3 linked regions of the Homo sapiens genome follow. The protein of the gene in region 2 purifies or fractionates together with the protein of the main gene of each other region. This does not show direct contact. Each region holds a gene or a part of one and is shown on either strand. Other genes may lie near its edges. The genes, in order: ACAP2, PDK3 and UBR7.

The links.
Region 1: the proteins of PDK3 (region 2) and ACAP2 purify together in Homo sapiens (affinity purification with mass spectrometry; one large-scale study listed by BioGRID and IntAct). This does not show direct contact.
Region 3: the proteins of PDK3 (region 2) and UBR7 purify together in Homo sapiens (affinity purification with mass spectrometry; one large-scale study listed by BioGRID and IntAct). This does not show direct contact.

The regions. Positions count from the first base shown.
Region 1 is NC_000003.12:195,440,806-195,444,628, forward strand, and holds the start of ACAP2 (arf-GAP with coiled-coil, ANK repeat and PH domain-containing protein 2), read right to left. Parts: upstream 2,216-3,823; 5' UTR 2,043-2,215; coding exon 1,990-2,042; intron 1,472-1,989; exon of another isoform or gene 1,345-1,471; intron 1-1,344. UniProt on the Homo sapiens protein: GTPase-activating protein (GAP) for ADP ribosylation factor 6 (ARF6). Doesn't show GAP activity for RAB35.
Region 2 is NC_000023.11:24,531,105-24,534,927, reverse strand, and holds the end of PDK3 (pyruvate dehydrogenase kinase, isozyme 3 isoform 2 precursor), read right to left. Parts: intron 3,272-3,823; coding exon 3,158-3,271; intron 1,000-3,157; coding exon 856-999; 3' UTR 506-855; downstream 1-505. UniProt on the Homo sapiens protein: Inhibits pyruvate dehydrogenase activity by phosphorylation of the E1 subunit PDHA1, and thereby regulates glucose metabolism and aerobic respiration. Can also phosphorylate PDHA2.
Region 3 is NC_000014.9:93,220,756-93,224,255, reverse strand, and holds part of UBR7 (putative E3 ubiquitin-protein ligase UBR7), read right to left. Parts: intron 1,944-3,500; coding exon 1,882-1,943; intron 708-1,881; exon of another isoform or gene 81-707; intron 1-80. UniProt on the Homo sapiens protein: E3 ubiquitin-protein ligase which is a component of the N-end rule pathway. Recognizes and binds to proteins bearing specific N-terminal residues that are destabilizing according to the N-end rule, leading to their ubiquitination and subsequent degradation.

The sequences.
Region 1 (3,823 bases), on a different chromosome or scaffold from region 2:
CCCTCTATTGCAAATCTAATTTGTCCCCAAAATGTATATAAGATGTTGAAGTTATTGAAATTTTGGCATCTCTTCCCAATTTGCAGCTAACAATAATTGGAATATGGGAAACAACTCCTGAAAACCTGTAATATTTTAATTAACATAGAATTTATGTTACAATCAAGTTTAACAAAAGTTCACTATAATATTCCCTACAACTTAATCAGTATGTTGCCCTCTTATTTTATATTCAATGATTTCTTTATTTCAAAAACAAAGACATCACATGGTTTGTGACCAACCCCAGTAGCTAGAAGTATTTCCAAATCACTTCTCTCAACTTAAAAAAAAAAAAAAATTAATGTGAAACAAAGGGAGTTCAAAGCTACATCTTCTAAGGGAAAAATGCTGTGATTATTTCACTTAAAAATAAATAGCTGAGTCATAGTAACAAAATTTCACAAAAAGCTGAACTTTCTAAGGTGCACTTTAAAAATTACTCCACTTGCCATGCTGTCCTGGAAACCAACCTGCACGCCTGTCCTAGGAAATCTATTTGTGTCTCTTGAGTCCTTCAATAATGCAGAACATAAAAGTTTCAAAAATGAATCGCAACAACAGCTATCAAAGGAAGTGGGTTTTTTTAAATAATAGCCCTAGGCTCCAATAAAATTAATACCCAAAAATCATCAAAGGGCAAACGCAAAAAGCGTTCTTAAATTTTCTCTAAGTAGCAGTTCCTTAGTTTTACAATTCTTTTCTTTTTCGCTGAAAGGAGAATAAGAAATCCAATTAACAGTGTTAAGGATGAGAACAGTTAGTTCCCAGGCAGAGGATGCAATTTACAATCCAGGCTTGGCCCAGACATTAGCGGGCACACACACGCCAGTGCTCAGAGGAAGCTTCAAGAAATGTCACTATCTAACGGAAGTGTTAAGGCCTTATATTTGTAAGGACTATGACCAGCCCTGTAAATAAATACACTGTAAAACGCAACCTAGAAAAACTCCATTGTCCAAAACAACTCAAGACTTTCCTACTATCCTCAAAACAGAAAGAACCTGTGTCCTGGACGGCCTCAGGACGACCGCCTCTCACATAGAAAGAAGGGCAACCCATGTGAATCGGAGTGCCCCCATGTCAACTCTGTGACAGATCCACTGGGAGCATCCGACTGTGATCCGGGCCCTCCTGGGCAGAGGCTGCTGGAAGAGGAACACACAGGCAATCTTCACGGCCCTCCTACTTCCGTTCTCAAAACAGAAATGCACTTTTCTGCTAGTCCTCCGCCCTCAGCCCGGTACCTCTCGACAGCTGTGCCCCCTTCAACGAGCTTAAGTGGAAAGAAAAGCAGGTAGTCACCAACTAGGGTCCACGGAATGCGGTTGATCACAGCGCTTCCCCCCGCGATTCCCGCACGCATCCACCGCGGGCGCCCTCCGGAGAGTCGCTCTGGCCGGGGGCACCGCGAAGCAGAAGTCGGCGTCCCAGTTCGCCCCCTACTCTCTCCTCCCCGGGGAAGGGGGGCAGAAAAGCGCAAAGAGGAACTAAATGAACTGCAAGAGGATGCCCTGAAAGCTCCCTCAAAGAGGGGGTGGGGAGGGGGTGGAAACCAAGAAGGGGCGGAAGGAAGGGGGAAGGAAGAGCAGCCAGAGGAGGAAGGGGGCGAGAGCGAGCGCCCGCGAAGGGGACGGGACTTCGGGAGCGCGGCTGCACCCCATTTCCCCCAGCGGGAGAGGGTGCGCCGGCCTTCGGGGCGCTCCGCCCCGGCAGAGGGCAAGGAAAGAAATGAGAGGCGACGTCCCCGTCCCCGCCACTTCGTCGCCCCTCGGGAGGGCTCGGTGGGGACTGCAGTGCCCTCGCAGGGTGGGAAACGGCGGCAACAGCCGCTCGCCCCGTCGGAAGGAGCGGACGGCGGGGCCTCCTCCGGGTGCGCGGGCCCGGCTTTCACGCCCCCAGCGCCGGGAAGGCAGCTCCGCGGTGACGCCGGGCGGCCGTGCCGGTTACCTGAAGCGGGGCGAGTCCTTCAGACACTCCTCGAAATCCACAGTCATCTTCATCCTGCCTCCGCCTCGCAGGCGGCGCTGGCAAAGCCGAGGGGGCCGCGGGAGCGGCCGCGCTGGGACGCAGACGGCTACGGCGGGCGCACGGCCGCGACTAGCGTTGCGCGGAGCTGCGAAGGGCGCCTCGCCCGCTGGTCATAGCAGCCGCGAAGACGGCGACGACTAGTCAGGCCCCAGTCCCGCCCCTCTTCCTCCCGCCCCAAGTAGAGCGCTGGCCGCAGGGAAACGGCCGGGGAGTGACAGCAGCGGCCAGCCAGCCACGAACCTGGCGGCCAAGGGGCGGGGCATCCGGCAGCACCGCCTGCGGGCGCCCGGGCAACGGGTCTGAGCGACGGCAACCCGAGCCAATGAGCAGCGCGACCGTGGGCACCTCCTTGCCACAACCGCCCCCGAGGGCCAACCGGGATGCGCGGGCGTCGCTAGGCGGGACGCACCGGTTGCTGGGAGGCCGGCAGCTGAGGTTCCTTGGGAAGGAAGTCACGTGGCTGCGGCCGCGCTTCCCTCCGAGCCCCCGCCTCTTCTCCTGCTCCCCGAGCCCCGCCCTGCTGAGCTGCCAGCCCAGAGGAGCAGTCTCCTGCAGGTCTGAGGAAGGAAATTTGCTTTTCAAAGCAGATTGGCAGAAATCTGAAGAGGTTAGAGGCAGAAATTATAAAAGGAAGAGATAGGCTAAGCCACCTATTCCTTTCAGTTTAGAGAAACTGAGGCCAGAAGAGGAGCGAGGATAACTTTAGTGATAAAATCCATCTTTCATGTATTTGTTCCATAGCTTCATAATCTGGAAATTGCTCCCATGTACATCTTCTCATATAGCCAGAGACCACTTCCTGAAGGAGCTGCCGTTTGGGTTGGACATAGAAAGATTTAGGCAGGTATGGGAGGTAGGGTGCTTCGTGTGGAGGAACTCCTCTCAAAACTGCCGAAAGCATTCCCCCTCACTGACACTTTGCTCCTGGTGGTTTTCACTGTTCTGCCATGGTGGGGTTCTGAAGACCAGGCTCATCGTACTCACCTTGCAACACCTGCCCCTCTAATCCACACTTTTTCTAGAAGCACTTTAAGATACTTATCATCTGATCCTCACGGCAGGTATTTACCATACTCCTTCATTTTAAGATGCCATTGATTGTAAAAAGTACAAAGATGTCTTATATGTAATGAGTAATTTTTAAGCCAACCTAAAAAACACGGGCGTATCTATAAAAATGAATATACAGGGTGTTCTAACAGCATAGTGGCTCTGAGTGAGAATCTGGAGGCAAACTTCCTGGATTTAGGTCCCAGCTTTCTCACTTTAAAATGAACATAACACACAGATCTGATGAAGTTGTCCGGTTAACACAGTGCCACATATCGATCATTCAGTAAATGTTGGCTATTTTAATTGTACCATTTGCCTCTTCAGTACTATAATCAAAGGGCTTAAGTCTAAGTTCTCTCACTTTCACTGTCTGAAGTTTTTGTTTGTCTCAAAAACAATCAAACAATTTCGTTCCGTTCCCCAGGCTGGTCTCAAACTCATGGCCTCAAGTGATCCTTCTGTCTCAGCCTCCCAAAATGCTGAGATTACAGGTGTGAGCCACACACCCAGCCTTCTAAAGTCTTAATATAACTTTCTGACCGTCTGGCTAAGTATAGCGTGATGACATACTGTTTTTCGTAACCCATCAAGAGATATCTTGATCTCTTTAGCATCTTTAGAAATTAACAGTATAGACAGGGCATGGTGGCTCACACCTGTAATCCCAGCACTTTGGGAGGCCGAGGTGAGCAGATTCCTT
Region 2 (3,823 bases):
GGTGTGCAGTGGTGCGAATCATAGCTCACTACAGCCTGGAAGTCCTGGGCTCAAGTGATCCTCCCGCCTCAGCTTCCTGAGTAGCTAGGACTACAGACCCACACCACCACACACGGCTAATTTTACCTTTTTAAATTTTTTGCTGAGACAGAGGTCTCACTATGTTGCCTAGGCTGGTCTTGAACTCCTGGCTTCAAGAGATCATCCAGCCTCAGCCTCCCAAAGTGTTGGGATTACAGGCGTGAGCCACCACACCCAGCCCAGAACTTACCATCTTAACCATTGCTACATGTACAGTTCAGTGGCATTGAGTACATTCACGCTGTTGTGCAAGCATCACCACCATCCATCTCCAGAAGTTTTTCATCTTTCCACCTGAAACTTTGTACCCATGAAACAATGCCTCCCCATTCCATCTTCGTCGCTAGCCCCTGGCAACCTCCCTTCCACTTTGTGTCTCTGCATTTGACTACTCTAGGTACTTCACATAAGTGGAATCATAGTATTTGTCCTTTTATGTCTGGTTTATTTCACTTAGCATAATGACTTCAAGATTCACCCATGTTGCAGCACATATCAGAATGTCCTTCCTTTTTAAGGCCAAATAATATTCCATTGGATGGATAGATCACCTTTTATCTTGATTGATCATTTTAACTTATTTTTCAGTTTCAACCTACAACGTTTATGAGGACAAACTGCAAACTTAATTGCTTTTTAAATAAAATTGATGGCAGGCCAAATCCCTGCTTGCTGTTGTGAATACCTCTACACTGCAAGAATTCCTGGAACAGTGAGTGGGACACCTTTATTCAGACAAATCAGATACTTTGTAATGGAAATCAAGGTGGTATATTACTGTTTTGCTTTGTATTTTGAAGCATCCCTGGGTTCACTGCTGGGATTGCTCCAATCATCGGCTTCAGGCGTGGTCTTGTAATGGCGCCATGCGGACTTATTAAAAACTGGAAGTCTCTCAAATGACTCACTTGAAAGAGCCTATTGGAGAAACAAAAATATACACCAAAGGTCGACAGTGTCATTTTTCTCAAGTGAAATAGTAACCCAAATTTTATTATTTAAAACATCAGAAACCTTAATACATATTTTCAAAATGATATTAAAATTACACCTTAGTAGTTTACTTAGACTGGCCAGGAAAACATTAAAGCTTTTTTAAAGGAATGAAAACATTTGCTCATTCAAAATCAGAACTGAAATACACATGACCAGAACAAAACATATTTTAATTCAGCTCATACTGCTTTGAGATGCTCAACTGTTTTGACTATACCTGGTGACTGGTCTCACAAAGGGCCCAGGAAGAGATACAGTCTCATGCATCCCAGGTTTATAAACACACACCATCAAGTATATTAAATATCGCATTACTTAGATGCATGGGCATCTAAGATAAATACTCCCAGTAACTGGTTAAATTCTGGTATCACATACATAGGTTGAGTATCCCTTTGAAATGCCTGGGAACAGGCCGGGCACAGTGGCTCACACCTGTAATCCCAGCACTTTGGGAGGCTGAGGCAGGTGGATCACCTGAGGTCAGGAGTTCGAGACCAGCCTGGCCAACATGGTGAAACCCTGTCTCTACTAAAAATACAAAAAATTAGCCGGGTGTGGTGGCTCACACCTGTAATCCCAGCTACTCAGGAGGCTGAGGCAGGAGCATGGCTTGAACCCAGGAGGCAGAGGTTGCAGTGAGCCGAGATGGCAGTACTGCACTCCAGCCTGGGTGACAGAGTGAGACTCTATCTCAAAAAAAAAAAAAAAGAAAAAGAAAGAAACAAAAAAAAAGAAAAGAAAGAAAGAAATGCTTGGGACCAGAAGTAGTTCTGATTTTTTCCGATTTTGGAATATTTGCATTGTGCTTACCTGTTAAGCATCCCTAATCTGAAAATCTGAAATCTGGGGTGCTCCAATAAGCATTTCCTTTAAGCTTGACCTTTGAGCAAGCATCACGTTGGCGCTCAAAAAGTTCCAGATTTTCAACCATTTTGGATTGCAGATTCTTGGGTTAGGGATGCTTGACCCACAGTGGCATGTTATGCCACTGTTTAAAAGAATGAGCCAGTTCTACATAAATGGATCTGGAAAGATCTCTAAGACAGATTGCAAAGTAAAAAAAATAAGAAGGTGCTGAAATTTCATTTATGTGGGAAAAATTCTATTTTTCCCATATTTATAAATGTAGAATCAACTCTAGGAGGATCCATAAGACGCTGAGACCGGTGGTGATCTTCGCTGAACAGAACTGGCGGTTTAGGGCCAGTGGGAGGAGAGACTTCATTTTTCCTTTTGTAGCTTTTAAATTTTTATTATGTGCCTATATTACCTATTCAAAAAAATGTTACAAATATTCTAGAGTTTAGAAATAAAAGCCCAATGATCACCAATGAATAAGAAAAACTGTGTTACAGAGAAGTTTGTTATTAAATGAATCTTTTACATAACCATATTATGATTACTGAATTCTTGTAGCTTTGGGAAAGCCAGTGAGTTTTTAAAACAAAAGACCAAAATACTTCAGTTTATGAAAATCTGCCTTCTTTTAGATCAGACCTTTCAATAGGCATGTAGTTTTTTAAGTCACAATTTAAAATTATGGTTTTAAAAATCAGTATTTTAATTTTTTTTTTTCTCTTTTGAGATGGAGTCTCATTCTGTCGCCCAGGCTGGAGTGCAGTGGCACCATCTTGGCTCACTGCAACCTCTGCCTCCCGGGTTCAAATGACTCTCCTGCCTCAGCCTCCTGAGTAGCTGGGACTACAGGCGTGCACCACCACATCAGCTAATTTTTTGTACTTTTAGTAGACATGGGGTTTCACCATGTTGGCCAGGCTGGTCTCGAACTCCTGACCTCAGGTGATCCACCCACCTCAGCCTCCCAAAGTCCTGAGATTACAGGCATGTGCCACCACGCCCGGCCAAAATCAGTATTTTAATTTCTATACCTCCACGTTTCATATTTTGCTTTATCTGAGCATAGAATCAAGCGTGAGGCATAACATGGTTTTCATGGGAAAATGAAGTAAATCTGAGATGAATCTAAGAGATGATACAGTGCTGTTCTCAATCAGCGATTAGAACTTACAGCTTTAAAAAGCAAAGATGCCTCATACTAACAAATAAAACGCAGTACCTTCAAATAAATGACAGCATCAGTACCCACTCCTTCCATGGAATACAGTTTCAGATCTCCTTGAAAATATCTAGCATACAGACGGGAAATTGGCAAACCATAACCAAATCCAGCCTATTGAGAAAAGAAAATTAATACAGTGAGACAGGCACAAATGCTAACACATTTTATATGATGACCATTCAGAGAAGGTTAAAATAAATTCTTGATTCAGATTTAAATCAAATAAATTACTGACTCAACCTTTACAATGATGTATATCCTCTTCTATGGCAAACAACCCCTTTATTTTCACCCTGCAAAAACATGTCTTATATGTTTGGATAATAATAGAAATATTCTAATTTTTGACTAATGCTTTTTTAGCATTTTAAAGCAAAATTTTATCATTTTTTTAAAAGCACATTCCAAGGCCGGGCACAGTGGCTCACGCCTGTAATCCCAGCACTTTGGGAGGCTGAGGCAGGTGGATCACTTGAGGTCAGGAATTCATGATCAGCCTGGCCAACATGGCGAAACCCCATCTCTACTACAAAAATTAGCTGGGCGAGGTGGTGGGAGACTGTAGTCCCAGCTACTCAGGAGGCTGAGGCAGGAGAATCGCCTGAACCCAGGAGGTGGAGGTTGCAGTGAGCTGAGATGGCGCCACTGCACTCCAGCCTGGGC
Region 3 (3,500 bases), on a different chromosome or scaffold from region 2:
GGCAGCACTGTGACCCTGTCCAGAAATTCAGGCAGTTAAATGTTCTTCCCACATCTATGACAAAGAAAAAAACGACCTAACCTTTTGCGGGTGGTGGCGAGCGCGGAGAGGACGCCATGAAGGCCTCGGGCACACTATGAGAGTACAAGGTGGTGGGTCACTGCCTGCCCACCCCCAAATGCCACACACCGCCCCTCTACCACATGCGAATCTTTGCGCCTAATCACGTTGTCGCCAAGTCCCGGGACTTCTGGTACTTCGTATCTCAGTTAAAAAAGATGAAGAAGTCTTCAGGGGAGATTGTCTACTGTGGGCAGGTGTTTGAGAAGTCCCCACCGCGGGTCAAGAACTTCGGCATCTGGCTGAGCTATGACTCCCGGAGCGGCGCCCCCAACATGTACCGGGAATACCGGGACCTGACCACCGCGGGCGCTGTTACCCAGTGCTACCGAGAGGTCTATGGGCGCCTGGCACCGCACCTGGGCCCATTCCATCGAGATCCTGAAGGTGAAGGAGATCGCAGCCAGCAAGTGCCGCCAGCCGGCCGGCCATCAAGCAGTTCCACGACTCCAAGATCAAGTTTCCCGCTGCCCCACCGGGTCCTGCCCGTCAGCCCAAGCCACGCTTCACCACCAAGAGGCCCAACACGTTCTTCTAGGGGCAGGGCCCTCGCCCGGGTGTGCCCCAAATAAACTCAGGAACGCCCCCCACCCCAAAAAAGAAAAAAAAGGAAAAAATGACCTAAAGTAGGTAGACAGAGATGACATCTTCTAAGAAAGCAGGGCTCAAGCCAGCCTCCCAAGTAGCTGAAACTACAGGTACAAGCCGCCATGCCCAGTTCTTTTTTTTTTTTTTTTTTTTGAGATGGAGTCTTGCTCTGTCACCCAGGCTGGAGTGCAATAGCACAATCTTGGCTCACTGCAACCTCCACCTGTGGGGTTCAAGCGTTTCTCCTGCCTCAGCCTCGGAGTAGCTGGGATTACAGGCACCCGCCCTCATACCCAGCTAATTTGTGTATTTTTGTAGAGACAAGGTTTCACCATGTTGGCCAGGCTGGTCTTGAACTCCTGACCTCAGGTGATCCACCCACCTCAGCCTCCTAAAGTGCTGGGATTAAGGCGTGAGCCACTGCACCCGGCCACCATGCCCAGTTTCTATTCTAAACCATGGAACTTAGAATTCCAGAAACTGGGTCTGGTGTTAATTTTTCCTGTCCAGTCATTTTCCCCTCCCCGTCCCAAAGATCCATGCTTCAAGGTCAGGACCAGCAGAATCAGTACTGCGGATTCCTTCCAATGACCTTCTGCTAAGCTACAAGTACTCTCTCAGAGGCTGTGGGACTGCGCCCTCCCATCATTCTTCCCGGCTTAGCTGGGGTTGGTAAGGACTGCCAATGTAACTCTGATGTTTCACTACCTCTTATTCATTCCCCTTAGCCTGCCAATTTGCTCAAAACAGTCCCTGAATTCAACTCTCAAGTACCCACTTAAGTCGCAGTCATTTTTTTTTTTTTGAAATAGGGTCTTGCTCTGTCGCCCAGGCTGGGGTGCAGTGGCGTGTTCTCGGCTCACTACAACCTCCGCCTCCTGGGTTCAAGTGAGTCTCCTGCCTCAGCCTCCCTAGTAGCTGGGACTACAGGCGCCCATCACCACGCCTGGCTAATTTTCGTATTTTTAGTAGAGATGGGGTTTCACCATATTGGCTAGGCTGGTCTTGAACTCCTGACCTTGTGATCCACCCACATTGGCCTCCCAAAGTACTGGGATTACAGGTGTGAGCCACCGCACCCCGCCAGTCGCAGTCATTTTTAATCGTCAAAGGAAATAAACCCTTCATTCAAAACTTACAGGGCTATGATTAGAATTCTTTAACTCAACATACCGTGCCTTCATCAGCAAATCTCTTGAGATAGTCTTTAAGTTCAGTCTTCAAATCATTGTATTCTAAATCAAAACCACAAAAGTATTTAAGTTTAGATAAACCATTTGCTTTCAAAAACAAAATATTCTTTGCCATTGACACCTGAGTCTGTTAATAATGTAGTCTAAATAAAAATTTTCTTAAGTGAAAGCTGCATAGAAACTCGTTCCCAAATTATCTGTACGTCTACCATGTTGATATGAGACCCTTTTTCATTAAAAAAAAAAAAAGCAAAATTTTTTAAAAAGCATAAAAAGCAGAGATATCCTAATCCCATAAAGATTAAGAATTTTTAAAAGGGCTTCCTATTTCTCTGGAATTCTGGTAGCTGAAATAACCTTGGACTTGTTGAATATTTAATTTAATTTAATTTATTTTATTTTTTGAGATGGAGTCTCACTCTGTCACCCAGGCTGGAATGCAGTGGCACGATCTCGGCTCACTGCAACCTCCGCCTCCCGAGTAGCTGGGACTACAGGCACGCGCCACCATGCCTGGCTACTTTTTTATATTTTTAGTAGAGACAGGGTTTCACCACGTCAGCCAGGCTGGTCTTGAACTCCTGACCTCAGGTGATCCACCTGCCTTGGCCTCCCAAAGTGCTGGGATTACAGGCGTGAGCCATGGCGCCCAGCCCAAGCAAACTGACTCACTTAACAGTTTATATTATGTACAAGGTACCTTGAGGGCTACAAGTATCTTTTAGGTGCATCCTCTATCCTTGAAAAGTTTTTACTCTAATAAAGGCAAAAAGAAATTAATAATTATAAATAAAAGACACGGCCAGGTGCAGTGGCTTGCACCTGTAATCCCAGCACTTTGGGAGGCTGAGGCAGGTGGATCACCTCAGCTCGGGAGTTCGAGACCAGCCTGGGTGACATGGTGAAACCCTGACTCTACTAAAAATACAAAAATTAGTGGGGACTGGGCATGGTGGCTCATGCCTGTAATCCCAGTACTTTGGGAGGCCAAGGCAGGTAGATCACCTGAGGTCAGAAGTTCGAAACCAGCTTGGCCAACATGGTAAAACCTTGTCTCTACTAAAAATACAAAGTAAATTAGCCAAGCATGGTGGCAGGTGCCTGTAATCCCAGCTACTTGGGAGGCTGAGGCAGGAGAATCACTTGAACCTGGGAGGCAGAGGTTGCAGTGAGCCGAGATCGCGCCACTGCACTCCAGCCTGGGTGACAGAGTGAGACTCCATCTCAAAAAAAAAAAAAAAATTGGGGGGGCGCAGTGGCATGCGTCTGTGGTCACAGCTACTTGAGAGACTGAGGCAGGAGAATCACTTGAGCCTGGGCAGCAGAGGTTGCAGTGAGCTGAGAATGCACCATTGCACTCCAGCCTGGGCAACAGAGCAAGACCCTGTCTCAAAATAAATAAATAAATAATAAAAGACAGAAATGACTGATGCTATAAAAGTCACATAAAAGTGGTGGCATCCAAGTGGAAATGGCTGGGATAGAAACCACTGAAATAAGTTTGGCCTGCTGCAGCTGGGTGGTGGTGGGGGGATGTAAAAGCCTTCAATCAAGGGTTTGGGGGTATTTTCTCCTCTAGTGGTTTCCTGTGAACCACTG